Homo sapiens: one gene and its partners. The protein of the gene in region 7 purifies or fractionates together with the protein of the main gene of each other region. This does not show direct contact. Each region holds a gene or a part of one and is shown on either strand. Other genes may lie near its edges. The genes, in order: ATP23, RICTOR, MLF1, INTS6, PIP4P2, SDF2 and PROZ.

Region 1 (4,504 bases), on a different chromosome or scaffold from region 7:
AGTAATGTTCTTTTTCTCTAGTCTGGGTGGTGGTTACATAGGTGTGCACTTTATTATTACTGAAAGTGTACATATAGATGTTTTACTCTTCTGTATGAATGAGATACTTCATAATAAAAATTTTCATTTAAAAAAATAGGCCAGGCACAGTGGCTCACGCCTGTAATCCTAGCAGTTTGGGAGGCCAAGATGGGTGGATCACCTGAGGTCAGGGGTTCAAGACCAGCCTGGCCAATATGGTGAAACCCTGACTCTACTAAAAATACAAAAATTAGCTGGGCATGGTGGCACATGCCTGCAATCCCAGCTACTCAGGAGGCTGAGGCAGGAGAATCACTTGAACCCAGGAGGCAGAGGTTGCAGTGAGCCCATATTGCACCACTGCATTCCAGCCTGGGTGACAGAGTAAGACTCTGTCTCAAAAATAATAATAATTTAAAAAATAATAATAAAATAAAAGGAGAGGGTGCCCAACTGTGTTCAACACTGCTGAGAATTAGGATGAAAGTTCAAGATGTGCACTCTGTTTAACCCTGGGGGGACCGAGAAGGGAGTGAACTTATCCAGAGCCATTTTGAGAGCTATAGGTATTGTGATTACCAGTTTACAAATGAGGAAACTGAGAAGAAGAAAAATAACTTGCCCAAGCCCCACAGATAATAAGCAAGGAAACTAGGATTTGAACTCAAGTCTGACTCCAAAATCTAGACTTCTCATCCTTGTTCTATATTGCCACTTCACATGATTACTGTAAAAATGCTATAAATAACCTAAATACATACAAAATTATCCAGCAGGAAACAGTTAAGTGTAGTTAAGTATGAATTATACATTCAAGTGGGAAACAGTTACTTATAACACCATCATTTACCCTGATCACATGACATTATCTACCACCTCCAAGACTCTGTCGAAACTCTCTGATGACTTAAAACTAATAATAAAATTTATTGAATGCTTACTATGGGCCAGGCACTAAGATAAGCAACTCTATAAGAGATATCTCATTTAATTCTCATAATCATTCCATAAAATAGATACAATCGTTGCCCAAATTGTACAGATTAGAAAACTCCCCTAATAAAAAATTTTCACAGGCAGTATCAATTCTCACCACGTAAAGGTAAAAACCCTTTAATTTAGCATTCAAAACCTCCCACCATAGGGCTTACATTTCCTTCCAATCCTATTTTCCCTCATTCCCCACATGTTCCTGCCCTCCAGATAAACTAGACAATATGCCATTCCCTACACATGCCATGCAGTTTCGTAGCATGCACTTTTGCTCATGCTGCCCCTGCTCTGTCCCTGCTCTGCCCCTAAGGAGGCTTTATATCCTCTAGTCGAATCTGTTGGCATCTTTCAATCGATCACATCACTGTTCCATTGTGGTAACCAAGCCCACCTAAAATGGTTTAGCTTGCCTCATTTTATAATTATCTGTGTTCATGTCTTATCTTTCCTGTAAGGCTGTAAACTCCTTAAGAGATTTTAAGAGTAAACTCCTTAGAGTAAGGATAACTAATTCACTTTTTTAGTCCTACATAAAGTCTACCAAACAGAATGCCGAGCATGTGGAAGATGCTCAAAAAATATAAAGAGAGAGGATTAAAGGGAAGGAAACAATTTGGCAATAATGCCTACCTGAGATGTTGAAGCATCAAAACCTCCACTGACATTTCCATTACAGTCTTCGCAAGAAAAGTGTCTATCTTTGTTAACAGCACTAAAAGGCAAGAAAAGGAGACAATGTCCAGAAACAGTGTGTATGTGGCAAACAGCCCTGGGCCAGGGCTCAGGAGACCCTCCACCATATAGTAAATCCCCTCTACTACTAACACATAGGAAATCTTGGGAAAGAAACAACATCTTCAGGACTGTTATCTCACCTGTAAAATAAGGAGGTTGTACACAAAATCCATTCTAGTTCAAATTCTATAGATATGATTCCATAAAACATTTGTCCCCCAGGCGCGGTGGCTCACGCCTGTAATCCCAGCACTTTGGGAGGCCGAGGCAGGTGGATCACCTGAGGTCGGGAGTTCAAGACCAGCCTGACCAACATGGAGAACCCCCCATCTCTACTAAAAATACAAAATTAGCCGGGTGGTGGTGGGCGCCTATAATCCCAGCTACTCAGGAGGCTGAGGCAGGAGAATCTCTTGAACCCGGGAGGCGGAGGTTGCGGTGAGCCGAGATCGTGCCACTGCATTCCAGCCTGGGCAAAAAAAAAGAGCAAAACTACGTCTCAAAAAAAAAAAAAAAAAAAAAAAATTTGTTCAACTGATTATGGCCATATTGCAAGTATGCTGGAGTTCCTGCCCTTGGGCCAGAATGTTAAGAAGTGGATGTCAGAAGTCACTTCCTTTAAACCCCTCAAAGTTATACAACATCTGCAAGGTTCCTACATAACAAGCTGAGATTTCTTTTCCATTAAAAACAGTGCTCAGGCTGGTGTAGCAGAAAGGCCAGGCTTGGTAATTACTTACAAGAAAATTTTGAGTACTGTCTTTATTAATCACCCAAGGTGAATGGTAAGAACTAGAAAATGAGCTGGGCTGGCGCAGTGGCTCACACCTGTAATCCCAGCACTTTGGGAGGCCGAGGTGGGTGGATCACTTGAGGACAGGAGTTCGAGACCAGTCTGGTCAACATGCTAAGACCCCATTTCTACTAAAAATACAAAAATTAGCCGGGCATGGTGGCGTGCGCCTGTAAACCCAGCTACTTGGGAGACTGAGGGAGAAGAATTGCTTGAACCTGGGAGACGGAGGTTGCACTGAGCCGAGACAGCACCAACGCACTCCCACCTGGACAACAAGAGCGAGACTCTATCCCCAAAAAAAAAAAAAAACATGAGTTAGGGCAGAAAATGTCCAAAGAGAACAAGGCCAGCCCGGAGACAATGCAGCCAATTACCTCTATTTACCCTATGGAAAAGACTTTGTGACCTCAGAGAAATCTTAAGCAGTTCTCTTAAGAAGAGAACTTGGTTTTTGTTTTCAGCAGCCAGACCTCAGAGCAGCACTTCAAAAAGAGTTACTTACCAACCTGAGTGTTTCATAGCATCAAGCAGAAGTTTGACATATGGATCTAAAAAAGATATTGATTTAATTAAGTAATTGGAAAAGTAGCACCAATTAAACTACCCAAATAGCAGTGTAAGATATTATCAAAAAGTAACTCACAGGCCAGATGCAGTGGCTCATGCCTGTAATCCCAGCACTTTAGGAGGTTGAGGCGGGTGGATCATTTGAGGCCAGGAGTTCAAGCCCAGCCTGACCAACATGGCAAACCCCGTCTCTACTAAAAATACAAAAATTAGCTGGGCATGGTGGCACACGCCTGTAGTCCCAGCTACTTGGGAAGCTGAGGCATGAGAATCACTTGAACCCAGGAGACAGACATTACAGTGAGCTGAGATCACACCACTGCACTCCAGCCTGGACGATAGAGTGACTCTGTCTCAAAAAAAAAGTAATGTTATCTTAAAATTGGTAAAAATTGACATGAGAGGCCAAGCTTAAATCAACATCAAAGCAAGTTTGTACTGAAATAAAACACTAATACAAATACCAAGATGGTACTACTAAGCATCTTAGACAATATCAACTATGCTTTTAAAGTTCATTTTTAGTTAAATGATCAAACACGTTGTATTACGGTATATACCAAAAGACTGAGGGAATCTAGGGCCACATTCTTAGAAGTGAACAACAGCACAGTACCTAGATTTGAGGAAGCCAGTAGCCACACTGTTCTGTCCTGATCAGATCATACCGGCAATACCATGTCCCATGCTGAGTACTACCACCTTCTAAATTGGACCTGCCACTGAAGCTCTTCCACAGGGGATGGTGACTAGGGTACTACAGACTATTTCCAGTAAGAAGCAAGAAAGGATTTGGGGGGTTGGAAAGGAGACAGAAGACTTAACTAGGACCACACTACTTTCAAGTATTGAAGGGGTGCCATGTGGGACTAGATTCAGTTAATATTTCTTCAAAGGGCAGAACAAGGACCAAAGTATGGAAGTTACATGTGGCAGATTTCAGCTCAGTATGAGAAAGGATTTTTCTCCAACAATTAAAGCTGGTGAAACAATAGACAGTAGATTGAAAGAGCCTCAAGGAACAGGTAACTGTATTCCAGGAGAGGTCTGTAGAGTATCTGGCCAGCAATAGCACAGAGGTTTCCCTGTAAGGGGACGGGGAGGCCTAGACGATTCCTGAGGGCCCTTCCACATCTAAGACTCTATGGGCCCGTGACTACTACAGGAAAGTACAAGGAGCCCAAATGCCTCTGATATTAACTTTTCACATAGGCATCTTGTCTGAGAATATAAATGCACAGCCAATTATATGATGTAACCCAAAAAAAGTGAAAAAGAAACTAAGGTTTAAAAAAAATGTTGAAGGCAAAAATAGGTGAGAAAAAGAAATGTGAGATGAGAAAGTCAGGTATAGGTTACTGCTTTACCAACCTGCCCCTTGCAAGAGTGTTC
Region 2 (4,504 bases), on a different chromosome or scaffold from region 7:
CACAATGGGGTTAAAAAAAAAAAGGAAAAGTAATTGAAGGACGCAGATTCTTGAAAATCCAGGTAATTAAGGTTAAAAAAACGTTTTCTGTATTTCTTACTGACATCTTTAACAGGATATGTTTAAAGCATTAGAATATCCTCAATTTTATATTTTATATAAATGTCATCATTCCAGGTACATTGCTCAGTTTACGCAATCTGGCTGGAAGCCTCTAAAAGAGGAATACGAAGAATATACTTATATTTAGGTTCTCTTTCAACCCTATTACTTTGGGTATATGAATGTTATACGTATTAACTAGTTTTACACAATTATTTTCAATTTACTTTTATGTCTGTAATTTTATAACTACATTTGTTGTATGGATATAATTTTTAAGGAGCCATTCAACTTTAACCTGGCCACTGTAACAAAAAAACACAAATAACAGTATCTGTAGATGACCCAAAAAGCATTAACAGTCAACTTCAATTATTCATACAGATTAACAAATATTTTAACCTGTTTATGTTCTTCCACTAACAGTATTTGCTTAGGAAACAAAAATCTGTGCTAATAATTCAAATAAAATGTAAAAGAAAATATACATCAATCTATTGTGGGAGAGAAAAGAACATAAAATATTTTCTCACCAATATAAAGTATTTAGATTATATATTTAGCATTCTTCTACCATTATTCATCTTTTTAAGGCAGGTAATTGAGAATGGACTGTATTTAATAGCTTGGTGACAGAGGCACAGATACACAGGCAAGCAAATCATTCGCTCACCCCACTGTGCTTTTCGCAGTCTTATTCTTGGTAGCCTGAGACCTGGGAGCGGGAGGAGGCAGCAAGTCACTGCAGGTGGATCACTTAAAAGGAAATTGAGAGTTGACTGTAATTTAAATTTAAAGTGCTATGAAATACCACCACTCCTACATGTATTCATTATTGTTTGTGGGACTACTACTCACAGTGATTTAACAAGGCTACAAATGCTTTCTTTTTAACCTTTTCAATATTCCAGGTCTGTAGTGATATGTGAGAATTACAAAGGTAGGAGGCTAAAGTGCTGCAAGTATAAAGTAGTATGCATTTTAGAGGTGAGGAAATTGAAGCCAGAGAGGTTAAATAGCATGCCATATCTTCCTCAGATTAAAGCAGAACCTCGTTCTCTGGACTTCAACTTCAATGCAACAGTCTAGCAGCCCCTTCAATTCAAAACTCTTCTCCTGGCTTATGTATCAGGCCATTCTTGCATTGTTACAAAGAAACACCTAAGACTGGGTAATTTATAAGAAAAGAGGTTTAATTGGCTATCATTTCTGCAGCCTATACAGGAAGCAGGGCACCAGCACTTGCTTCTGGGATGGCTTCAGGAAGCTTTTACTCATAGCAAAGACGAAGCGTGTGCAGGCATCTCACATGGCAGAGCGGGAGCAAGAGGGAGCTGGGGGGAAGGAGCCACAGGCTTTTAAATAACCAGATGTTGTGAAAACCTACTATCACGAAGACAGCACCAAGCCATGAGGGATCCACTCCCATGACCCAAACACCTCCCACCATGCCCCATCTCCAGCATTGGAGATTACAATTCAACATGAGATTCGGGTGGGGACAAATATCCAAACTGTATCATTCTGCCCACGGCCCCTCCCAAATCTCATGTCCTTCTCACACTGCAAAATAAACTCATGCCTTCCCAACAGTCTCCCAAAGTCTTAACTCATTCCAGCATTAACTCTGAAGTCCAAAGTCTCATCTGAAACAAGGCAAGTCCCTTCCACTTATGAGGCTGTAAAGTCACAAATAAGTTATTTACTCCCAAGATACAATGAGGATATAGGCATTGGATAAACATTGCCATTTCAAAAAGGAGAAATCAACCAAAAGAAAGGGGCTACAGGCCCCATGCAAGTTCAAAACCCAGCAGGGCAGTCATTAAATCTTAAAGCTCCAAAATAATCTCCTTTGACTCTATGTTCCACATTCAAGGCACACTGCTGCAAAGGGTGGGCTCCCAAGGCTTTGGGCAACTCTGCCCTGTGGCTTTGCAGGGTTTAGCCCCCAGGAATGCTCTCACAGGTTTTAGTTGAATGCCTGTGGCTTCTCCAGGTATAGGATGCAAACTGCCAGTGGATCTACCATTCTGTGGTCTGGAGGATGGTAGGCCCCTTCTCACAGCTCCACTAGGCAGTGCCCCACTGGGGACTCTGGGGGGCTCCAACCCCACATTTCCCCTTGGCCCCACCCTAATAGAGATCCTCAATGAGGGCTCCACCCCTGCAGCAGGCTTCTGCCTAGACACCCAGGCTTTCTCATACATCCTCTGAAATCTAGGCAGAGGCTCCCAAGCCTCAGTTCTTGCACTCTGGGCACCTGCAGGCTTAATAATACATGTAAGCCATCAAGTCTTATGGCTTGCACCCTTTGAAGCAGCAGCCCGAACTGTACCTGGGCCCCTTTGAACAAGGCTGGAAGCCTGAGTGGCTGGGATGCAGGGAGCAGTGTCTTGAGGCTGTGCAAGGCAGCAAGGCCCGGCTAGCCCAGGCCCACAAAACCATTCTTTCTTCCTAGGCCTCTGGGCCTATGATGAGAGGGGCTGCTGTGAAGGTTTCTAAAATGCCTTGAAGGCCTTTTCTCCAACTTCACGGATATCAGCACTTTGGCATGTGTTTAATTATGCAAATATCTCTAGCACGTGGTTGCTCTATAGCCTGCTTGAATTCCTCCCCTGAAAAAGCTTTTTCTTTCTTTGCCACATGGCTAGGCTGCAAATTTCCCAAACCTTTATGCAGTGCTTCCTGTTTAAAAACAAATTCCAACTTTAAGTCATTTCTTTGCTCCTACATCTTAGCATGGGCTGTTAGCAGCATCCAGGACACATCTTGAACACTTTGCTGCTTAGACATTTCTTCCGCCAGATACCAGAGGTCATCACTCTCAAGTTCAAACTTCCACAGGTCCCTACAGAATGAACAGAATGCAACCAAGTGCTTTGCTAAAGCATAATGAGGGTGACCTTTGCTCCAGTTCCTACTAAGTTCTTCATTTCCACCTGAGACCTCATCATCATGGACTTCATTGTCCGTATCACTACCAGCATTTTGGTCACAACCATTCAACCAGTCTCTAAGAAGTTCCAAACTTTCCCTCATTTTCCTGTCTTCTGAGTCCTCCAAACTCTTCCAACCTCTGCCTGTTACCCAGTTTCAAAGCTGCTTCCATATTTTCAGGTATCTTTAGAGCAATGCTCCACGCCCACTTACCAATTTTCTGTAATAGGCTGTTCTTGCACTGCTATAAAGAAGCATCTGAGCCTGGGTAATTTAAAAGAGGTTTAATTGGCTATTGGTTCTGTAGGCTGTACAGGAAGCATGGTGCCAGCATCTGCTTCTCGGGAGGCCTCAGGGTGTTTCTGCTCAAGATGGAAGGTGAAGCAGGAGTAGGCATCTCACATGGCAAAGTAGGAGTGAGAAAGAGTAAGAGGGTAGGTGCACACTTTTAAACAACCAGATCTTGCCAGAACTCACTATTGCAAAAACAACACCAAGCCATCAGGGATCCATTCCCATGGCCCAAACACCTCCCACCAAGCCCCACCTCCAGCATTGGGGATTACAATTCAACATGAGATTTGGGTGGGGACAAATATCCAAACTGTTTTAGCTTAAGAGATCACAATTTTCTCTCTTCTCTTCTATTGACTCCTTTCTTCTTATTGATTCCTACCCTATGATATACACCCTCATCATCTTATCTATTTTCATACATTCAAATCTTCAGCTCTTTTTCCATTTATATCCCTTTTCTCAACATCTTACACACAGAACAATCAGACTAGAAATTCAGGGCAACTAAAACCTCCATTCCAGTATTTGCTGCCACCTTTTACACATTTATATAATCACGTGAAATTCAAGGTGCAAAGCTGAACTCATTATCATCCTTCCCAAAATGACTTCTCCATTTTATGGCACCATCAATTTCATTGTCCCTTAGGACAGTAATCTTAAAGTACTCTTTTCCTTCTAATCTCCTTAATACTGTACTATTCTTTTTCCCATGTCTCTCACTCCCTTCTTCCAGTCAATTAATGCCTCAGTGATTATCTGATGGATGCTGGGGGAAGCGGATGTTAAAAATGGGTAAAACAGGCCTCCTGCCCTCAAGAAGCTAAAGATCTAGTGAAGGGGGAAGAAACTGGACAAAGAACTAAAGTAAGACAATGGTAACTGCAATTTAGAAAATAATAAATAAAGACGTAAAAAAGCAGAGAAGGAAGCAATAAATTCCCACTGGGATAAGGAAAGATCTCCAGAAATGGCATGTGACCTCAACCTTAAAGAATTAGGACTTCTATAGATAAACTGTGCTGGAAATGCAATTCAAGGCAAAGGAAATACCTACGCAAGGTCAAGCGAATATTAAACTACATGCCATGTTCAAGGAATAGCAAACATTCTTCTTTGACTGAAAGATTCTCAAGTAGGGGCATACAGTCTCCACGGAGAAAGA
Region 3 (3,386 bases), on a different chromosome or scaffold from region 7:
TTTCAGACTCTGTTTTTTTTTTTTGAGATGGGCTGGAGTGCAATGGCGCGATCTCCGCTCACTGCAAGGTACATCACTTTAAAACACCCTGTAACAGAGCACAGTGAAAAGAAAAAATATAGTTCTTCCTGTTGAAGACTTCCAAGAATAAAAACAAATGTCATTCTCATGAAATTAACAATAATGAATATACAGATGAAAAACAAGCTTTTAATTTCTATTTATTTTATTAAAAAACCTCATGAACTCACATAAAATAATTCATTGGCTCATAAAAGGAGTGGAAATAAAATATTAATCTTAAAAATAAACCATCCTACCTAGTATGTGTATATAGGTTTTTTTTTTTTTTTTTTTTTTTTTGAGATGGACTCCTGCTCTGTTGCCCAGGCTGGAGTGCAGAGATGCGACCTCGGCTCACTGCAACCTCCGCCTCCCAGGTTCCAGCAATTCTCCTGCCTCAGCCTCCTGAGTAGCTGGGATTATAGGTGCCCGCCACCACACCCGCTGAATTTTTGTATATTTAGTAGAGACAGGGTTTTGCCATGTTGGTCAGGCTGGTCTTGAAGTGACCTCAAGCAATCCACTTGCCGCAGCCTCCCAAAGTGCTGGGATTACAGGCATGAGCCACTGCGCCCGGCATGTATATAGTTTTAAATAGTTTCAATTTACAGACTAACAGTATTAAACACCCATCATAAGAAGTTGTTGCAAACAAATATTATTCTGGGGTATAGATATCGATAGTTATGTTTTTATGGTGCAAAGATAGAGTTGACTTTTAAGAAAGAAACAGAACTTTTCTCGGTACTACCATCTCAAATTCTGCCTCACCACAATCTCTAACTGCAATCTGATGTACAGGAATTATACTGTTAAACACAATTATTTATTAAAGGGTGTTTTTAGATTTGACTACAATGATTCAAGTTATCATCAGTGTAATGATTTAGGCAAAAGGAAAATCAAGTATGTACTTTATTAAGACTTTGCTCTATCAGGTTAATTTATATCAAGATGTTATTTAAAATGTGTGCCTTATGACAATTTCCCAATGTGTTATGGTATGTTAGGAGTATACTAAAGTATGCCTAAAAGGAAATTTTTAACTAATACATGCTCAATTTCAACAATGAATTAACACATTTGCATTTTATTTTAATGACTAAAGGCATAAAACACAAACTAGTAAAATTAACAAAAATATTATATAAAAAATTAGAGAAGTATGAACATAGTCATATAATTTTACTTACAAAATTGAAAAGAAAAATACTTAGGATTATAGAGTGATAGCAATTTTTGGGGGCTTTTTTCCTTGACAGAAATATTAAACAACAAATGTGAGTTAAGATTTTATATTCTTATAAACTTCAAACCTAACTTTTATAAGAACAGACTGATGCTTAAATTCTAGAATTAAAAAGCTAAAGCTGATTTTTAATGGTATAATTAAAACAGAAACAACTGAATTATTAAGACGTTGCTCAAAAACACCCATCAGCTGTCTAACAGATTTTGAGACAATGTATCATTCTGGTTTGGAGAATACCAAATGCATTTTTCTAAATGTCACAAAAAAGCTGAGCAGAGTTTCTCCAAGGACTCTCCAGCTTCAGAATGTTAACCTTGGAGACAGATGAAGCTGTTTGTGGGAAAGGAGAGTAGAAATATGCCACATTAAGAAGTTAAAGAGAATGGTCAATATAATATCTGGTGAATATTAAGAATGTAATATAGAAAAGATACATTCTATAAATAAATTATAACCAAAACAATCATGTACATTAGCAATTTAAAATATTTTTCTCTGAAAATGAACTATTTGATTATCCTTGCCCTTTATCAAAATAGTAACTATTTTCTCATAAAAGAGTACTAGTGTAGTTTTGCTTTATTATTTTTAAAGTTTTAAGCTAGTTGGCTTTACAACACATTATAAAATTAGAGATAAATTATTTAAACCTTTATTAATATCACCCTAGTACAGTGTTAGTAAAAACTGAGACTTTTTTAACATTATAATTTCTTATAACTAATTATAAGTGATAGAACTGCTCTGCAATCAATCTTGATAAATATAAAAGAATATTTAGCCAACACAAAAACAACTGGGGAAGCGAAATAAGCATATAAGCTTTAAAAAATTAGTATGTTTTAAAGAGTTTTACATTAAATAGACTCAATTTACTCACATTGTTGAAAATCAAAATTTTATTCCTAAAAGAGGGACAATATAAAGCTAGGACCTTCATGAACATTCAGATATCAGAAGAAAGTTGCCAAGGACAGAACTGATTTAACAGCAAGAGATTGGTCTTATGCTTATTACCCAGCACCATTACTAACTGTTAAAACAATCAAAACTAAACAAATCAAATGCATGGCTATTTATTTTTTGTTGCTTTTCACAGATGAGCCTTTGATGTGGAGTTTGTCCCCCAAAACATTTGATCTCCTTCCATGTTCAATGGCTGGACTTTGTTGAGGTTTCTCCCTGAGAAATATACATGTGAATATTAATATCATTTAAAAAATGGCCAATGGTTTATAAATCAATACAAACATGTTAAAAACCACTGTAATATAAGAAAAGTTTTATCTTAAAAATTCCTTAATGGCTTTGAAAAACAAGGCTGGCCAGGTGCGGTGGCTCATGCCTGTAATCCCGGCACTTTGGGAGGCTGAGGCAGGCAGATCACAAGTTAAGAGATCGAGACCATCCTGGCCAACATGATGAAACCCCATCTCTACTAAAAATACAAAGATTAGCTGGGCGTGGTGATGCGCGCCTGTAGTCCCAGCTACTCAGGAGGCTGAAGCAGGAGGATTGCCTGAACCTGGGAGGTGGAGGTTGCAGTGAGTTGAGATCGCGCCACTGCACTCCAGCCTGGCGACAGAGCCAGACTCTGTACCCCCTGCCCTAAAACAAAAAATAAAAAACAAAAAAAACCAGAAAATAAGGCAGACTATTTCAGTGAATTTAAGACAGCAACAGCTGTTTTCCTGTTAGATTTAACTGTTTATAGTTTAAACACTGTTTAATGTTAACAGTATGGTAGTCACTAACCACATTTATATTTGAATTAAAATAAAATAATTCAGTTCTTCAGTTGTACCAGCAATGCTTCAAATGTGAATCAACAGCCACATGTGGCTAGTGATTACTACACTGGACAGAATAGATATATAGCATTTTTGTCATTACCGAAGTCATTTCAGAAAATGCCATTGGACAGTGCCGGTTAAGAGAAAATGCCACTGTTAGGGCCAGAAATTTATAGGTCATCCATAAAGAGCATGCCTTCTCTAAGTGCGACCTGGATTTCCTATTCAAACTTGGCACTGCCAGGTTTTTAATCAATACATTTTTCAAATGAGACAAA
Region 4 (4,504 bases), about 62 Mb from region 7:
AATATTCATCTTCTAACTTAGGATCTCCACTTGATGACCTAATATGCACTTCTAAACTAAACTCATTTATCATTTCTTCTTCCACCCACCCAGTGTCTCTCAAGACATACGTCTGACTCCTCCCCTGCTCTGGTCCCAACATCTGACCAGTAACCAAGTCCTTCAGTGGTATGTCCAGGTATTTCTCAAATACATATTCTTCTTGAAACCCCACTGTCAGGTCAGCAGCATCTGTTCCCCGGGTTTCCCAACTGATTCCTGTGCATGCACAATTATTTAATAACATCAAATATACAGTCAGTGTCCATACTCTCCAACATGTTTTCTGTTTGTGGAAAAGTTTGATTTTGTTTGATTCTGAGTACAGTTAAGGCCTATACATTGCAACTGGCTTATATATCTCTTAAACTACATTTGAATCTGTAAAATCCTTCCGTACCCCTTTTATTTTTCTGGAAAAAATATTTTTTTTCCAGGAAAAAAACCCAACAGATTCTTTGTCCTGTAGAGTTTTCTACAATCTGGATTTTACTAACGGTATCCCACATGTTTCTCTGTCCCCTGTATTTCCTATAAATTGGTTTGATTACATTGATGTTCAATTTTGGTGTTTGGTTTTTTTTTTTTTGGGTAAGACAACTTCAAAGGCAGTATTGGATACTTCCATCAGGAGTCATATAATATTTTGTTTCCCTTCAGTTAACATGCTGTAAGTATGACCACTATATATAATTGATAAGTCCATTAATTCATTAGGGTTTCCCTACATTCATTCTTGCTCCTCTCTGATAATAGTCCACACACATTACAGTCAACCTGGTCTTCATAAAATGCTAATCAGATTAGGTCACCATCATTTTAAGCCTTTCAGTGGATTCTCACTGTCCTTAGAATAAAGTTGAAAATAGCTTCCAAGACCTTCCATAATCTGGCTTCTATCTTTCAGTTCTCACCTTACCTCATTCCCAACACCCTTGCTATACTGGAATTTTTTAAATTCCCTTAATGTCTTTCTCTTTATGCCTCTGCACATACTATTGCTCCAGCATAAGCAAACGGCACAGCTTTTGGCTTAAGCATTAACTTCTTCAGTTAAGTGCCTTGACTTCATTGACTTAAATCCTCTTGCCAAATGCTTCCAGAATATACTTGACATCTTTTTCGTAACATTCAACATACTTCCAATATCTGTTCAATGACTGACCTTCCTTGCTGATTATAAATGAGGGCAGAGATCACTCCTGTCTTCAGTGGTATACCTCAAAGCACAGCATTATCCAAAATAGCATACATATTTAATAATTAGTTGACTTCAACTGAAATTGAAAACCATCTTTCTGTGGATAGTGATAATGCTCCTTTCGAAAGTATTATTTTGAAAGATTTGCAAATGTATGTTAGAACATAATAGCTAATAAAGCATCATAAATAAGAAATGTTCAAATGTTCATTAAAAAGACATACAAAAATGATTACATGCTCATTTAAACAAATTTTCTATACATTCATTCACTCATTGTACTACTAATCAATTTCCTTCTATAATCTATAACAAAAATATCTTCCTTGAAAAGGAACCAAAAGGCAGCAAATAATGTTTAAGAAAAAAACAATTCTTACTTTTATGAAGAGGAAGAGGTTTAATAAGATCTGGCTGTGCTTGAGTTGTAGGTGCAGGTGGTCCTTTTCCCCCAATATGATTGTTTACAACAGGATTCTGCTGTCTGCCTCTTAGTAGTGGAGACATACACCGACGTCTTTTAGGGATCCCTTGCATATTTGGTTCTCCGGGTCGTTTATGTTTATTTTGAGGTCCAGCCACAAATTCATCTGCTTCATCTATCATCATACCCTTTAGCAAAAAAGAATACAACTTTCTTGAATTTACAAACAATGTTTAAATGGCACAACCAGTGTCAATTCCAATGAAGGTAACTATATTCTGTTCATATTTATTAGATACTCTACCAGGAAAATAGCTTCAGCTTACTTCAGTTAAATTAAGAACTATAAAACTGACAGTGCCTACCATAAACAAATTACATAATAGAACATTTCAAAATTACCTTCTTATCCAGCTTAAAGGGGTTGCCAAATGTATGCAACCTTCGTGGCTGATCAGGATCAAGTTCTCTTAGTGGAGAAGGTACTTGCTTGAGGTATTCCTGGTAGTTCCCCATTTGTGCTATAGGAACACTGTGCACTTGATCTTTCAAAAAGAATACAACAGCAAAAAAAGTTAACCTCCAATTAGTTCTCAAATAATGTTTCCTTATATATGAATGCTACCTAGTGTTATTCTAGACAGTCTTCTTTACCAACATATTCTAAATTTGTTTGGTGCAATTATAACCACTGCGACAAAATATTTTAAAATAAAATTTAAAATACTGATCTCATCATCTAAACAAAACAAAAATTGCCATTAATTTCACACATACATACATTGCCATTAATTCCACACATACAGAAAGTATGTGTGGCCAGGCGCAGTGGCTCATGCCTGTAATCCCAGCACTTCGGGAGGCTGAGGCAGACATCCGGATCACTTGAGGTAAGGAATGAGACCAGCCTGGCCAACATGGCAAAATCCCATCTCTATTAAAAATACAAAAATTAGCAGGGCATGGTGGCACGTGCCTGTAATCCCAGCTACTAGGGAGGCTAAGGAGGAGAATCGCTTGAACCCAGGATGCGGAGGTTGCAGTGAGCCGAGATCACACCACTGCACTCCAGCCTGGGCGACAGAGCAAGGCTCTGACTCAAAAAAAAAAAAAAAAAGTATGTGTGATCTTACCGTGAAAGATGTATCTCTTCTCTTCTGCGCTATTCCAAATAAACAGAATTTAATTATAGTAGAATTTGTAGAAAATGGAAGTACAGTATGGTAAAAAAAAAAAAAAGTCGCATAGCTAACTCTTTTATATAAAATTATTGTTAGAACTCTTAAATCAGAGGTGGCAAACGTTTAAAGTCTCATCTGACTTGATTTATAGTAGGTGCCATGGATAAAGGTGAAGAAGGAATTATCAGAAAATGTCATGAAACTGGCCATCCAGAGTTAAACCATCAGATACTGGTATTATCTCAAGAAAATGATTGAGATAAGAAAAATCACTTATTTTAAGTATACAGTTTGATAAGTGGGTGTGTGTGTGTGTGTGTGTGTGTGTGTGTGTGCGCGCGCGTGCGCGCATGAATGCATGAGAAAAGCTATAAAAGGAAACTAAACTGTTAAGAAAGGTTGTTACCTCTAGGGAAGAGAATTTGGGGCAACAGTGATGGTAGGAAGAAAGGTACAGAATCAGGGATGATTCACCTTTTACTTCATTTGTTTGAACTTACAATAAGAATGTTATAGTACTGTAATAATTCTTTGAAATTTACATCACCATGCTATGCTTTTTCAGACTATAAAGAAAAAAAATTAAAAATACCAGTATTGAAACTATGTTCTAACCTTCGTCCTGTCCTTTCAGAAATCTGCGAGTGCTCTTCAAAAGATTAGATCTCATTCTTGTTAAGTGATCCAAAAGATTTCGTCTTGGTATGTCATAAGCATTTCTAAATGTCTGTGGCTTCAAATCCTATTAAACAACATTCGAGGACAAAATTTATTGTCAAACATAGAATTACAAGAGACTAAAATCTCTAGCCTGCAGCATAGGTTTGGAAATAAGATATATAAACTGGTTAGCTTAAAAAAAATAAAATAAAGACATATGATATAATCTTAATGTACCGGTTCAGGGCCAAAAGATGAAAATTTGGTAGTGAGCTCAACCAAACAATCTCAATTCACCATCTAACTCTAAAGATTTTATTATATATTCTGGATAAAAGAAGTAAACTCATTTAAGTAAAAATCAATCTCCAAATTTTAAAAACTGAAGTTTTTTAAAAAACAGCTTTGATGTGTAATTTATATACCATAAAATCACCTATTTTAAGTATATAGTTTGATGAATGTTAGTAAATTTATAGTTGTGAAACCATCATCATAATCCATTTCCACCATCCCCAAGTTTGTTGTACCCACTTGCAGTCAATCACTATTCCTATCCCCAGGCAACCACGTGACTTGCTTTCTTTCTATGCTCCATTTTATAAATGGAATTTTGCAACGTCTAATCTTTTGTACTTGGCTTCTTTCAATTAGCATGATGTTTTTGAGATTCATTGACATTATTCATGTATCAGTAGTTTGTTCCTTTTTATTCCAGAGTAGTAGTCTATTATATGGACACACCACATCTTCTTTATCTATTCACCAGCTGATGGGCACTTGGACTGTTACAAGTTTTTGGCTATTATGAAAAATGCTGCCATGTTGGCATGCTAAGCCTACAAGTAGAATGACTGATTGTACAGCAAATTTATGTTTACACTTCTTAAGAAAATATCAACTATTTTCTATCAGTAATGTTAGGAGGGTTGCTCCACATTCTCATCAATCCCTGTATTTTTTGTCTTTTAAATTTTATTCATTCTAGCAGTTATGAAG
Region 5 (4,504 bases), on a different chromosome or scaffold from region 7:
AAAACTAGACTGAGCATGGCAGTTACGTATAAATACTTTCAATATCTATCCACATCACAACTACATTCATTCTTGTTTTCATTAAAATGAAAATATTGTGTACTAAACTTCATTACAGATGTAAACTTTGCCCTATTTATGTGGAAAATTATTTGAAGTTATTTTATGTCTGTAGGATGTCACTATTGTTTTTCTGGGCTTTTGTGATTATGCATTTATTATTAGCATCTGTGCCAAAGTGTTTACAAATAGTTTGACATTTTATTCAATTTAGTTGATAGTAATTTAGGAATGTTTAAAATATTGAATAACACCTTTCCTTTTTTAAAAATTGAGCTTTGGGGAGCAACTAAATTTTCAGCAGTATTTTTATAGCTTCAAGTAATAAACTGGTAAAGCATACACTGGTTTAGATGAAATATATTTCTTTCATAGTTAGGCTTTATATATTACATTTTGATCTCTCAAAATCTGCAATTAAATATTAATTTTATCTTTGATGTTTTATTTTTTTCTCTTTAGAAAAGACTAAAAAAAGTCAGCCAGTGATTATTGTGTCTTGAAGGACCACAAAACATGAATACTTGACTTCATATGTTTTATAGAAAAATCATAAAATAAAACCTTAAGTTACAAAAGCAATATATTTCATTAGTTTTAATGGAATCCTTTCCTTTTTAAACACAAACAAACTTTGACAATCTGTACTTTGGTTAATTGCTGTGTTTGCATTTTCTTCCCTTATCCAGCCAATCAAAAACCCCCCAACAGGCAAGAAATATGTTAGATGCCCTTGTAATTGTCTTCTCATTTGTAAGGACACATCTCGGCGAATAGGATGCCCAAGACCCAACTGGTAAGAGATAAAGATTAATTCATTGATTCATTCATTTGTTCATTCAACAAGTATTTACTAAAGGTTCTTCAGTGCCAGGCTTTGTTCTAGAAAGAGTTTTTGTTTTCAAAGTCATTCCAGAATCTAGATTATTTTTTTGTTAAAGGAATGATAAGCTTAGTTTGAACTTAGTCATAGATATTTGTAGGATATAATATTCTTAAATGAGCAATGAATGTTTTCTTTGTGTTATGTAAGTACTTAATGCACTGTAATAAATCAATGACACATTGAACGTATTTAAAAATAATGAGGTCAGGCCAGTGGTTCATGCCTGTATTCCTAGCAATTTGGGAGGCTGAGGTGGGAGGATTGCCTGAAGCTGGTAGTTTGAGACCAAACTGAGCAACATAGTGAGACCCCATCTCTACAAAAAATTAGCCAGGTGTGACAGCATGCACCTATATTCCCAGTTACTTGGGAGACTGAGGCAGGAGTATCATTTGGGCCTAGGGATTAAAGCCTTCAATGAGCTATGACTGTGCCTCTGCACTCCAGCCTGGGCAACAGAGTGAGACCCCATCTGTTAGTCTCTCTCTTTTTTTTTTTTTTTGAGACAGAGTCTCAACGGGAAGAGTCTCAAAAGAGTTGGCTCACTGTGACCTCTACCTTCTGCCCTGAAAGCCTTCCCACTATAGCCTCCTCCTGAGTAGCTGGGACTACAAGCACACACCACCACTCCCAGGTAATATATTTTTTTTTTTTTTTTTTTTTTTTTTTTTGTAGAGACAGGGTTTCACCATATTGCCCGGGCTGTCTTGAACTCCTGGGTTCAAGTGATCCCAAAGTGCTGGGATTACAGGCATGAGCCACCATGCCTGGCCCATCTCTTAAAAAAAAAAAAGTAATCACTTAGTTTACTTTTGATATAATTAATCTTCACCTGCAAGTGTTTTAGTTATTTTTGTGTATCTCACTGTATATTATACTAATCTCTGCTGAATGTATATGTGCAATAAATTCTGGAATTATTCGCTCATGCCCAGTACCATTATGGATGTCCCCAGATACAAGTATATAAAGGCCTTACTTGTGTTTTTTTTCTGTGATCTCTCTAGCTTTTTGACCATTACATGAATCATGTACAGCCCTATCCAATGATAGACTAGAGAATAGAAATGAAAGCAGGATCCTGTTTGCTTTCTTTTCATCTCTGATTAAATACGCATCAAGGAATATCACACTGCTCAGAGAAATTTGGTTGTAACCCAGCCCTTCGGTGCCTTCATGGCACAGAGATTTTTGTTGGTATAGAATATTTTTAACTTAGTCTTCTACCAAACTCAAGTTGGCTTCCTAGATAAGGAAGGGTAACAACTGTTTTCTGATTTGAACTTACAAAAACTTGGAAATGACAGTTAAATGGTTGCCATTGATTAGGACCAATGCTATAATATATTGTTTCTATCCCAAGTACAGACTCATATTTTGCTTTTGAAAAACTGACTGTTGCTACTCTTTGTAGTTTTGCCTCCAGCTTGACATTTAATTCACTTAATTTATGAAACAAGTATAGCACATTTCATATTTTTGGCCATATGTTGCAGGTTTTGCTCTCAGTCCATTTGTGGGATAGTGAAGTTGTTTCCTTTCTCTTTTCACAGTAGACGGATAATTAACCTTGGCCCAGTAATGCTTATTTCTGAAGAACAACCAGCTCAGCCTGCATTGCCAATCCAACCAGAAGGTACAAGGGTCGTGTGTGGGCACTGTGGAAACACATTCCTGGTAAGTCACTGGACATTTGTCATTAATCTGTAAATATAGGTCATGATCTTACAGATTAGAGCACTGCTCATAGTCTTATAGTTTTGTCCAAATGCAAATTAATCAAAATATTAAAATAGAGACTTATTTAGGCAGACAATCAGAAGTGCAACTAGGATATAGAGCATCTTCTGTGAACTAGATAAAAGGTACGTCCTCTGATAAGTCCAGTTGCAAAAAGGATCCTCTCTATGTAGGCCAATGAGAAATCGTGCCCAGGCTTAGTTCCATGAGTATCTTGGCTTGGGGAGCAGCTGAGTCTTAGCCCTGCTCTCACCTGCTCAGCAGAGGTCAAAGTGCACAATCTCATGCAGTAGATTTGCTTCATGGCTTCTAGATTGAGGAAAAATTTGAATAATAATTTATCAAAAATTTTCTGACTTTTATAAATTATTCTTGGAGCAAAGGGAATTAACACTGTTACCCATAATTAGATAAAACCATTAGATAAAGAATAAGAAAGTATAAGTAATTTGATATGAGCAAAAGTTATAAAAGTTTTTGTTTTACTACTTCTAACTTAAACTTAGTTTGATTTTTTTTAAAGTTAAATTCATAATTAACTTACCCTGTCAGGAAGGATAAGGACAGGTTTTCTTTTATTGTTCAGCCCATATAGGAGACAAACATTTTCTTTAGAACTTGAATATGAAAAATATTTATCAGAGTATACACATGGGAGTCTAAACAAAACCTGCTGTCACTAAGACATGAATGAGCTTAAGAAAATATAAGTGGTTTGCTTTTTTTTATTTGTAATTTTACTTTTATTAAAGAACTTTATGTATATAGTTCTAAATGTCAAATGGGACTGCAATCTTCTCATCTAGCTGACCCCTAGTTACTGTTCCCAAAATGCTTTCAACTCTTTCAGCTACTTTATTGATAGTCACTTCTATGTGTTTATTTTTTATAATTTTTAAATTTTTATTTATTTATTCATTTATTTTTTGAGATGAAGTCTCACTCCGTCGCCCAGGCTGGAGTACAGTGGCGTGATCTCAGCTCACTGCAACCCCTGCCTCCCGGGTTCAAGCAATTCTCCTGCCACAGCCTCCCAAGTAGCTGGGATTATAGGTGCACACCACCACACCTGGCTAATTTTTGTATTTTTAGTACAGATGGGGTTACATAATGTTGGCCAGACTTCTATGTGTTTAAATTGCTTATCCTTTTTCTATTTGATTAAGCAATTTTAGACATTACCCACTAAATAGTAAACTGCAAAATGAGAACTTAGCACTTATACTGCCCTCCCACTCATATTCCTTTCCTTGCTTTCATACTCCCAGTCAAATTGCAACATTTTGTTTAATTAATACTTAGTGTTTACAATTTTTATGATTAGGTAAATTTTGTTCACAGCTGAACCAAGCAATGTGGTACATTTTTCTTGTGCATGCATTTTAACATTTTCTTGGACTTACAAATAATTGCCCCCTCCTTTGGATTTAATTTTCTATGTGTAAATCATTCATTCTTCTCATATTCTTGTGTAGAACTATAAAATACCTATTACTATAATTAATTGCATCAAGGAATCTCTTATTTAGGCTTCCTGCTACATAGTTGTCATCCTTCCCTTCACCATCATCATGAAAATTCCTTTTACCTCTTTCCTGTGTTGGATCCCATGCCATCCTCAGAGTTCTTAGTTTATTCCTTCATTTTGGTGGAGCACATCTACTCTTTGCTTTCTGAGAAAAGATGCAGGGAAATATTATATTTGAGCTCTTTTTCTCTTAAGTGGTTTTTAATCTGATCTTACATTCACTTTATAATTTGTCTAGATGTGCAATTCTAGGTTGCCAGTTGTCACCTTTCAGAAATTTAAAGTCTTTG
Region 6 (4,504 bases), on a different chromosome or scaffold from region 7:
CCCAGGTCTGCACAAAAGAGAACATCTACACCTAGAAAAGAAACATTTAAGAACCAAGAGATCAAACAAGCACCCACTGAGTAATGCAGAGCAGCAACAATCCATCGAAAGCCACCTCACCTGGTTTCCAGAAAGAGGTGAAGTGAAGTGGTGACTATGGAGGTTTCGGCCAGTGTTGACATGTGTCAGCCGGATGGGCTGGCCACACTTGATGGGGGTTCCCCTCTCACACACTGTGGCACTCTTCCCCCGTATCCTCCAGTAACTGTTGCTGTCATCCACAGAGGTTACACCTGTCACTGACTGCTGCCCACTACCTGCAGTTAAGAAAAGAAAGGCAACTCTCTTTCTCTGCCATGGACAACATGCTCAGAGACAGAAGCTTGAGTGCGCTCAAGATTCACCTTCACCTGTAACCCACCACCATGACCAAGGAAGACACGCTGCTGGAGGTGTAATGGATATTAATACTGCTCTACAAGAGACTGAAGACCGCCCTCAGCCATGATGGCCTAGCAGGTGGAACCTGCAAAGCTGCCAAAGCCTTAGACAAGGGCCAAGCCCATCTTTGCGTGCTTGCATCCAAATGTGAAGAGCCTATGTATGTCAAGCTAGGGGTGGCCCTTTGTGCCGAACACCAAATCAACCCAATTAAGGTTGATGACCTTAAGAAACCAGAGACATGGCTAAGCCTTTGTAAAACTGATAGACAAGGAAAACTTTGTAAAGTGGTTGGTTGCAGTTGTGTCACAGTGAAGGGCTACAGCAAAGAATTTCAGGCCAAGGATGTGACTGTGTACTTCAAATGCAAGAAATTAACAAATAAATTTGGTACCCATTCCTCAAAAAAAAAAACAGCAAGTGAGCTCAGCCTCACCCTTCTTGCCTATGGCCAATATTGTGCCGTGTCATTAAACAGGTAAGAAGGGGTGGGGAGAAAAATGCTATGCTTGGCAATATTTTTTCTTCTACAACATTAAAATATTTATAAAAAATACAAATCATACTGGGCGTGGTGGCTCACGCTTGTAATCCCAGCACTCTGGGAGTGAAACTTGACCTCCCAAAGTGCTGGGATTGATGGTGAGCCACTGTGCCCAGCCTTTTTCTTCTTTTAAATAAAAAAAAAATTTTTTAGGCTGGGTGTGGTGGCTCACACCTGTAATCCTAGCACTTTTTGGGAGGCTGAGGCAGTTGGATTGCTTGAGCCCAGGAATTCAAGACCAGCCTGGGCAACATGGCAAAAACCCATCTTTACTAAAAATACAAAAATTAGCTGGGTGTGGTGGTGGCAGCCTGTAATCCCAGCTATCTGGGAGGCTGAGGTGGGAGAATCGCTTGAACCCGGGAGGTGGAGGTTGCAATGAGCCAAGATCGCGCCACTGCCCTCCAGCCTGGATGACAGAGCCAGACTCCGTCTCAAAAAAAATAAATAAATAAACTGTGTCCACGTAATACTAGTTACTATATGATAAAGTATACTTAAGGGTATGTCATATCAGAAAATTCTAAGAATTTGCATCAAAGGATATCCAAGGCACAAATCTATGTGAGTTTTTTGAGGCACAGGCAGTGGTAACCTATACACACTAGCCTGGATAGCCCCTAATGTGTCTAATCACATAATTTTAACATGTTTGTAATATTATTCATGTTCATTAACTATTATGATAAAAATTTTTGTATTTCACAATTAAAATGAGACTATGTTGCCAACTTTAAGCAGCCATTACAGCTCCCAACTCCCATAAGTGGTCAATTATTATAAACGTATTATTTAAGCAAGGCACGGTGGCTCACGCCTGTAATCCCAGCACTTTGGGAGGCTGAGGCAGGCAGAACACAAAGTCATGAGTTCGAGACCAGCCTGGCCAATATGGTGAAACCCCGTCTCTACTAAAAATATAAAAATTAGCTGGGCGTGGTCGCATGTGCCTGTAATCCCAGCTACTTGGGAGGCTGAGGCAGAAGAATTGCTTGCATCCGGGAGGCGGAGGTTGCAGTGAGCCGAGATCACACCACCGCACTCCAGCCTAGGTGGCAGGGCAAGACTCTGTCTCAAAACAAAAACAAAAACAAAACAAAAAATGTATCCTTGGAGGTCTGGCACAGTGGCTCATGCCTGTAATCCAAGCGCTTTGGGAAGGTGAGGGGAGGATCCCTTGAGTCCAGGAGTTCGAGACTAGCCTCAGCAACATAGCAAAATGCAGTCTCTAAACGTACATATATATATATGTATTTTTTTTTTTTGATACAGGATCCCTCTTGTCACTCAGGCTGGAGTGCAGTGGCACGATCACAGCTCGCCACAGCCTTGACCTCCCAGGCTCGGGTGATCCTCCTACCTCAGCCTCCCAAGTAGCTGGGATTTCAGGCGCCTGCCACCACACCTGGCTAATTTTTCTATTTTTTGTAGAGATGGGTTTTTGCCATGTTGCCCAGGCTACTCTCGAATTCCTGGGCTCAAGCAATCCAACTGCCTCAGCCTCCCAAAGTGCTAGGATTACAGATGTGAGCCACCACACCCAGCCTAAAAAAAAATTTTTATATTTAAAAGAAAAAAAAGAAGCTGGGCACAGTGGCTCACCGTCAATCCCAGCACTTTGGGAGGTCAAGGTGGGCAGATCGCTTGAGCCCAGGAATTCAAGACCAAGCCTAAGCAACTGACAAAACTCCATCTCTACAAAAGATGCAAAAAATTAATCAGGTGTGGTGGGGTGCACTTGTAGTCCCAGCTACTCAGGACGCTGAGATGTGAGGATTGCTTGAGCCCAGGAGGTCAAGGCTGCAATGAGTCGTAATTGTGTCACTGCCAGTTACACGGGTAAATGTAGCCAACTATCAGCTCCTTTCATGACTTTATTATATCTTTTTTCAGAAAAGGCAAACCAAGTCTCCCTTCCTACTTCTGGTTACTGCCTTACAGCTCTCTGGGTCCTCACAGCCACGCTTCACTAAACCATGGTCTACATTTTGTCTCCTACATTTTCTGCTTTCTATTCAACCGTTCACTTCTTCCTCCAAATCCTTATACCTTGGGATTATCCAAAGTTCTATGCCTGGCCTTCATCTGTTTCTACCTGTAGTTTTTTTTTTTTTTTTTAGTATTTATTGTTCATTCTTGGGTGTTTCTCGGAGAGGGGGATGTGGCAGGGTCACAGGATAATAGTGGAGAGAAGGTCAGCAGATAAACATGTGAACAAAGGTCTCTGGTTTTCCTAGGCAGAGGTCCCTGCGGCCTTCCGCAGTGTTTGTGTCCCTGGGTACTTGAGATTAGGGAGTGGTGATGACTCTTAACGAGCATGCTGCCTTCAAGTATCTGTTTAACAAAGCACATCTTGCACCACCCTTAATCCATTTAACCCTGAGTTGACACAGCACACGTTTCAGAGAGCACGGGGTTGGGGGTAAGGTTATAGATTAACAGCATCCCAAAGCTGAAGAATTTTTCTTAGTACAGAACAAAATGGAGTCTCCTATGTCTACTTCTTTCTACACAGACACAGTAACAATCTGATCTCTCTTTCTTTTCCCCACATTTCCCCCTTTTCTTTTCGACAAAACCGCCATCGTCATCATGGCCCATTCTCGATGGTCGCTGTCTCTTCGGTGCTGTTGGGTACACCTGCAGAAAGGCTGTCACTTCACACTTGGAAGACTGCACAGCGGCCAGGCAGAGGCGCTCCTCACTTCCCAGACGGGGCGGCCGGGCAGAGGCACTCCTCACTTCCCAGACAGGGTGGCCGGGCAGAGGAGCTCCTCACTTAACAGACTGGGTGGCCGGGCAGAGGCGCTCCTCACATCCCAGACGATGGGAGGCCGGACAGAGGCGCTCCTCCCCTCCCAGACGGGGCGGCCGTGCAGAGGCGCTCCTCACTTCCTAGATGGGACAGCCAGGCAGAGGTGCTCCTCAACTCCCAGACGAAGGGCGGCCGGGCAGAGGCGCTCCTCACATCCCAGACAATGGGCGGCCGGGCAGAGGCGCTCCTCACTTCCCAGACAGGGTGGCGGCCGGGCAGAGGCGCTCCTCACATCCCAGACGGGGTGGCGGCCAGGCAGAGGCGCTCCCCACTTCCCAGACGGGGCGGCTGGGCAGAGGCGCTCCCCACTTCCCAGACGGGGCAGCCGGGCAGAGGCGCTCCCCACTTCCCAGACAGGGCGGCCGGGCAGAGGCGCTCCCCACTTCCCAGACGGGGCAGCCGGGCAGAGGCGCTCCCCACTTCCCAGATGGGGTGGCGGCCGGGCAGAGGCGCTCCTCACATCCCAGACAGGGCGGCCAGGTGCTCCCCACTTCCCAGATGGGGTGGCCGGGCAGAGGTGCTCCTCACCTCCCAGATAATGGGCAGCCCACTTCCCAGATGGGGTGGCAGCCGGGCAAAGGCACTCCTCACATCCCAGATGGCGCGGCCGGGCAGAGGCGCTCCTCACTTCCCAGACGGGGCGGCCAGGCAGAGGCGCTCCTCACTTCCTAGACAGGGCGGCCAGGCAGAGACGCTCCTCACAT
Region 7 (5,243 bases):
GAACATTTATGCCATTTCTGTCCATTTCAGTGCAAATTCAGACCCTGCTAGGAGCTCCAGTCTCCAAGGACGTTTCACTGGGGGCTGGACTGCAGCTCTGTCTTTGGTACTTGCATTGCAGCTGCAGCCTTCATGACAGCAGGTGTTTACTGTGATTCAGCACGTGCTGTCCTGGTCTGTTCTACAAAATACCATGGACTGGGTGATAACAGAAACTCATTTCTCACAGATCTGGGGGCTGGGAAGTTCAAGATCTGGGTGCCGGCAGATTTGGTGTCTGCTGAGGGCTCTCTGTCTCCAGGGTAGCACCTCACTGCAGTGTCCTCGTATGGGAGAAGAGATGGAAGGGGCTGGCAGAGCCCTCATGGCCTAGTCACCTCCCAAGGGCCCCACCTCCCCATATCATCATCTTGGGGTAAGTTCCAATTTTGGAGTTTTGAAGGGACACACACTCCAGCCACAACAGTGCTGGGCGTTGCCCTAGCTGCCCATCAGCCCATTGGTGAGGTGCTGGGATTCTACCCTGGGCGACCCTGAGGCATGAAGAGGTGGAACAGTTGTCCAAGAGCCACCTGGTGGGACGAGCAGAGAGCTGGGTCTCAGTGCTCAGCCCTGACTTCGGGCCCCGGAACCTTCCGTGGGAACCCTCCCAGAGAAGGGCGGGTGCACAACCCCGTGAGACGCCGGCGTGCCTCCTCAGCCTCTCTTGTGCTCTCTGGCCCTTTCCTCTAATGCTGCCTCTCTGGGATACCCACAGGGTCATTCTCCTCCATTGCCAACCTGCTTCTAGTGGCTGCTTCTGCACTGAGCCATGGTCCTCAGTCACAGTGGCAATTGGTAAACCAACAGAGGAGGTCACTTTCTGCTGTAACCGGAGATTGTTGTCGCTTCTGCACCAGAACACACTCACCAGTGTGCAGGCTGGGGTGGCTATTCCCTGAGCACAGGGAACACTGGACTTGGAGAAGGAAAGAATTTCTGGAAACCAGGCTGCTTTATGACTGACAGATTATCTTATTTTATTATTTAACGTATCTCATGTTTTCTTTTAAGGTCTCTATTGAGATAAAGAGTTCCAGGGAAAGAAAGGTCACAGTGCTCGGTAAACAACCCAGCAAACGGCGGCTCTGCTGCTGCGTGGGCCAAGCGGGTGGTCTGGGGCTGTGACGGCCTCTCAGTGTGTGATGAAGTTTCAGCGCCCTCCACAGTGGCAGTGCCAGCTTGGAATCCCGCTTCCGGTTGTGTTGTTCATTCTGGCTAGCTGAGTTTCAGTTAGTTCATGATCTGTTTAAACCAGAGTGAGTACCTGGAGACCTTGGTGACAAGGACCATGTGAGCCTGCCCTCCTACTGGCTGCGAGCCCAGGACCCCCGTGAGAAACCAGGAGCCTCTGTGTTCTCTGGTGACCACACTTCCATCCATCCAGTGCATGGCCGCCACGCTGCTTCTCTCACAGTAGGTCCTGGTGGTGACAGTCACATTCAGGACCTGCCCGCACTCCTCCCCCTCCACAAGTGTGACAGGCCGCGTGGTCAGCGAGTTGCCCAGGTCAGTGCCATTGCGTGCCCAGCCGCTGAGGAGGCCCCTGGTGCGTGGGATGAGGAGGTGCTCAGCGAAGTCTTTCTCAGGGGTGCACACGGGGAGCCCCGCACCTGGGCACTGGATGGGCCACTCCAGCTCCAGCAGTGACAGGTCATTCTCCCCCGCGTCCGCGTCATACCGCATGTGCACATGGACGTGCGTTATCTTGATCATCAGCGGGTCTTGGCTCGTTCTGTTAAAATCTGAAATCATGAACAATCGTCAGTTCTTTACAGTCTGATTTTCAAGGGGACATAATGCTCAAACGAGCTTCTCAGGGAGCCACGTGAGGAGGGAGAGACCGGCCCTGGAGGACCCGCAGGCTCACCGCCCCGTGGTGTGGACACTGTGCCTTTCTGCGGACAGAAAGGCCACTCACAGATTGCACGATTGCAACCAAGTGCCACAGCCTTTAAAAACAGTCAAGGTTAGTTCTTCTGTTTTGGAGTGCAGTGGGGTGTGGTGAAATGATTAAAAAGCAGGAAGCAGTGATGTGGAACGTCTCCAGGCCAGTCAAACATTGGCTGTTGAGAAGTGGTTTTCACGTTATTTTGTTGATTGAAAAATATTTAAGGGCCAGGCACAGTGGCTCACATCTGTAATCCCAGCGCTTCGGGAGGCCGAGGCAGGTCGATCACTTAAGGCCAGGAGTAAAGACCAGCTTTTCCAACATAGCAAAACCCCATTTCTACTAAAAATACAAAAAATTAGTGGGATATGGTGGTGCATGCCTGTAGTCCCAGCTACTCGGGAGGCTGAGGCATGAGAATCGCTTGAACCCAGGAGGCAGAGGTTGCAGTGAGCCTGGATCATGCCACTGCACTCCAGCCTGAGGGATTGAGTGAGACTCTGTCTCAAAAAAAAAAAAGAAAGAAATAGGCACAGATAAGCCGATGAGAAGGCCACTGCCTCAGCCTGAGGTCTCAACTGCTGGGGGATTCGAGCCCCATTCTTCCGATTTTTAGCCAATTATCCATCTCTTATGCCACAACTGCTCAATTTCAGTGGGAAATGAAGTCATCCTTATGTAGGCTGTGATTTCCTCCCTTGCCGAGTGTGAGTTAGCACTTGCCTGTCGCTGGGCCCAGGCTTCTGCTGGTATTTTACATATGCTTCCTGAGTTGATAAGTATCTCAGTTTTATTGACAGTAAATTCAGTTCTATGTTGCATTAGAAACAGTCCAGTTTTAAATTTGTCATTTCATTCTTACATAGGATAGTGTATTTCCAATGTGGTTTTATAAAAACTCATGATAAAATACTTACATGTTTTTACAGTAATATTCCTGTGTAACAGTGAACATTTTGCTGTTGTCAGTACAAAATTTTCCCGTATTATAACACCACCACAGAAGTCTTTTCCTTCGGAATTTGTTAACTTTACCTTTAAAAATCAAAACAGACAATAAATAGCTGGTGACAATTTGCAGGATTAGGGGCAGTAAAGTCTACTGGATAGGGATATGGACCACCCCCCCACCCCCACCCCCACCCCCCGCCAAAGGCAGACAGCCGTATTTGATTCTTGCCCCAGCACTCAAATGGTACAGGATTGTTAACGAATTGTTGACAGTCTAAGCTTTTGTTTGCTTAGGGATTAAATGGGGCCGGCACTTCCCCTTTCGGCCCAGGTGAAGTAACAGTGATCAGATTTACCCTCCCACCTGAAGCAAAAAATTGACAAAATCTATGGAATGATGGTTTTCAGGAATCGTAATCCCCAAGAAACAACGGTCTCAGCTACTGTCCAGAATTTCCATGGTGCAGAGCAGGACGGGGCATCTCAGTTGGAGCCCTGCTGACTCCCTAAATTGAAGAGAGAAAGCTGAGAGCCCAGGGAGGCCACAGTGGCTGGAGTTTGCAGAACAGAGTCCTGCAGAACAGAGTCCGGCAGAGGAGAGAGCTTGGTAGAGAATGCTGGAGGATGGCCACATGCCTAGCAGTTTTCAGCAGAGCAGTGGTGATCACGTGTACATGGAGACTAATTATGGCCGGGTAAGAACCACCCAAGAGTGTGAGAGGGACCTGTGCTAGACACTCACACAAGCTGGGAATAGCAATTGCTTCCACCAGCTGAGTTAAAACATCCCTGACTCAGTGGGGCACGGGGCAGGATGCATAGAAGGGTTTCACTTCAGTAGTCAGAATAACTAGCTCTAGACTTGAGCGCTGCCCTGGTCCTACTGACAAATCTTAAGAGCAATGTGCCAAAGGATGAAAGTATTTCCAACCTAACTGTGTCCTAGGACAATATCCAAGTGTATGTATAGAGCACAAAATATTCAGCACCTAACAGGATAAAATTCACATGTCTGGAAATCCATTACGGCATACAAACAGGAAAATGTGACCCATAATGAGAAGAAAAATATCCCAAAACTGAGTCAGCACTGACAGATATTAGTAGACAAGGACAATTAAACAGTGATTGTAACTGTAGTCCAAATGTTCAAAAAGTTAAGTAGAGACAAAAATACGTATTTTTAAAAACCTAAATTAAATTTTTGGATGACAGCTACAATATATGAGGTTAAACATCCACTGGCCAGGATGAATGGCAGATTAGACATTGCAGAAGAACAGATTGATGACCTTGAAGGCATCACAACAGAAACTATCAAAAGTAAAACACGGAGAGAACGGAGATTTTTGAAAAATGAACAGACCATCTCTGAGCTATGGGATTTCAAACAGCTTAAGATACATGTAATTAGAGTCCCAAAACAGAGCAGGGAGAAGGAGGAGAGAAAAAAAATCTGAAAATAATGGGCCAGGCATGGTGGCTCACGCCTATAATCCCAGCACTTTGGGAGGCTGAGGTGGAAGGATTGCTTGAGCCCAGGAGTTTGAGACCAGCCTGAGCAACATAGCAAGACCCCATCTCTACATGAAATTTAAAAATTAGCTGTGTGTGGTCGTGCACACCTATGGTCCCAGCTACTCAAGACGCTGAGGTGGGAGGATCACCTGAACCCAGGAGGTTGAGGCTGCAGTGAGCCATGATCACACCACTACACTCCAGCCCAGGCAATAGGGCGAGACCCGGTCTCAAAAAAAAGAAAATTATGACCAAATATTTTTCAAATTTGACAAGCGATATTAGCCCACAAATACAAGAATCTCAACAAACCCTATGTGCAAGAAACATGAAAACAATACACAGTATAATTAAATTCAAAATCCATGATAGAGGAAATCTTAGAAAGTTAAAATTAAAAAGCATTTAAAATCTTAAAAGTGCCACAGGTAAGGACATGTGAGGAACAGCAGCAGGGTGATGGGAGCCGTCTTGTGGCACAAGGCAGACAGGAAGGCAGTGGGGCAGGCCCAAGTGCAGAGAGGAGAGGACTGCTGCCAGCCTGGGGCTCTGCGCCAGACGCAATGCCTTTCATAGATGAAGATGAACAAAGACTCCTCCAGACAAACGCAAGAAGGCTTCTTCCCCAGACGCCTCACAGCACAGCAGATATCAAAGGGGCCCTTTAGGCAGGAGGAAAACGATACCAGAGGGAGGCCTGGATTTACACAAAGCAGCAAGGAACACTGGAAAAGGTTATGACATCCCATTAAATATTTATCCGCATTCCACTATATATGTAAGGTTTTTTTCCTTATTCTTTAAACTTCTTTACAGGATACTGTTTAAACAAAAATAATGGAAG

What was found.
Region 1: the proteins of PROZ (region 7) and ATP23 purify together in Homo sapiens (affinity purification with mass spectrometry; 2 studies listed by BioGRID and IntAct, with this or other methods). This does not show direct contact.
Region 2: the proteins of PROZ (region 7) and RICTOR purify together in Homo sapiens (co-immunoprecipitation; 3 studies listed by BioGRID and IntAct, with this or other methods). This does not show direct contact.
Region 3: the proteins of PROZ (region 7) and MLF1 purify together in Homo sapiens (affinity purification with mass spectrometry; 2 studies listed by BioGRID and IntAct, with this or other methods). This does not show direct contact.
Region 4: the proteins of PROZ (region 7) and INTS6 purify together in Homo sapiens (co-immunoprecipitation; 3 studies listed by BioGRID and IntAct, with this or other methods). This does not show direct contact.
Region 5: the proteins of PROZ (region 7) and PIP4P2 purify together in Homo sapiens (co-immunoprecipitation; one large-scale study listed by IntAct). This does not show direct contact.
Region 6: the proteins of PROZ (region 7) and SDF2 purify together in Homo sapiens (co-immunoprecipitation; one large-scale study listed by IntAct). This does not show direct contact.

Annotation. Positions count from the first base shown.
Region 1 is NC_000012.12:57,944,217-57,948,720, reverse strand, and holds part of ATP23 (mitochondrial inner membrane protease ATP23 homolog), read right to left. Parts: intron 3,094-4,504; coding exon 3,048-3,093; intron 1,996-3,047; exon of another isoform or gene 1,961-1,995; coding exon of another isoform or gene 1,890-1,960; intron 1,727-1,889; coding exon 1,645-1,726; intron 1-1,644.
Region 2 is NC_000005.10:39,063,824-39,068,327, forward strand, and holds part of RICTOR (rapamycin-insensitive companion of mTOR), read right to left. Parts: intron 1-4,504. UniProt on the Homo sapiens protein: Component of the mechanistic target of rapamycin complex 2 (mTORC2), which transduces signals from growth factors to pathways involved in proliferation, cytoskeletal organization, lipogenesis and anabolic output.
Region 3 is NC_000003.12:158,604,208-158,607,593, reverse strand, and holds the end of MLF1 (myeloid leukemia factor 1), read right to left. Parts: intron 2,498-3,386; coding exon 2,392-2,497; 3' UTR 1,646-2,391; coding exon of another isoform or gene 1,624-1,645; 3' UTR 1,138-1,623; downstream 1-1,137. UniProt on the Homo sapiens protein: Involved in lineage commitment of primary hemopoietic progenitors by restricting erythroid formation and enhancing myeloid formation.
Region 4 is NC_000013.11:51,372,588-51,377,091, forward strand, and holds part of INTS6 (integrator complex subunit 6), read right to left. Parts: intron 3,588-4,504; coding exon 3,461-3,587; intron 2,210-3,460; coding exon 2,067-2,209; intron 1,853-2,066; coding exon 1,621-1,852; intron 1-1,620. UniProt on the Homo sapiens protein: Component of the integrator complex, a multiprotein complex that terminates RNA polymerase II (Pol II) transcription in the promoter-proximal region of genes.
Region 5 is NC_000008.11:91,016,509-91,021,012, reverse strand, and holds part of PIP4P2 (type 2 phosphatidylinositol 4,5-bisphosphate 4-phosphatase), read left to right. Parts: intron 1-749; coding exon 750-856; intron 857-2,499; coding exon 2,500-2,623; intron 2,624-4,504. UniProt on the Homo sapiens protein: Catalyzes the hydrolysis of phosphatidylinositol-4,5-bisphosphate (PtdIns-4,5-P2) to phosphatidylinositol-4-phosphate (PtdIns-4-P).
Region 6 is NC_000017.11:28,655,167-28,659,670, forward strand, and holds part of SDF2 (stromal cell-derived factor 2 precursor), read right to left. Parts: intron 318-4,504; coding exon 121-317; intron 1-120.
Region 7 is NC_000013.11:113,168,135-113,173,377, reverse strand, and holds the end of PROZ (vitamin K-dependent protein Z isoform 2 precursor), read right to left. Parts: intron 3,577-5,243; exon of another isoform or gene 3,290-3,576; intron 2,966-3,289; coding exon 2,848-2,965; intron 2,009-2,847; exon of another isoform or gene 1,785-2,008; coding exon 1,273-1,784; 3' UTR 992-1,272; downstream 1-991. UniProt on the Homo sapiens protein: Appears to assist hemostasis by binding thrombin and promoting its association with phospholipid vesicles. Inhibits activity of the coagulation protease factor Xa in the presence of SERPINA10, calcium and phospholipids.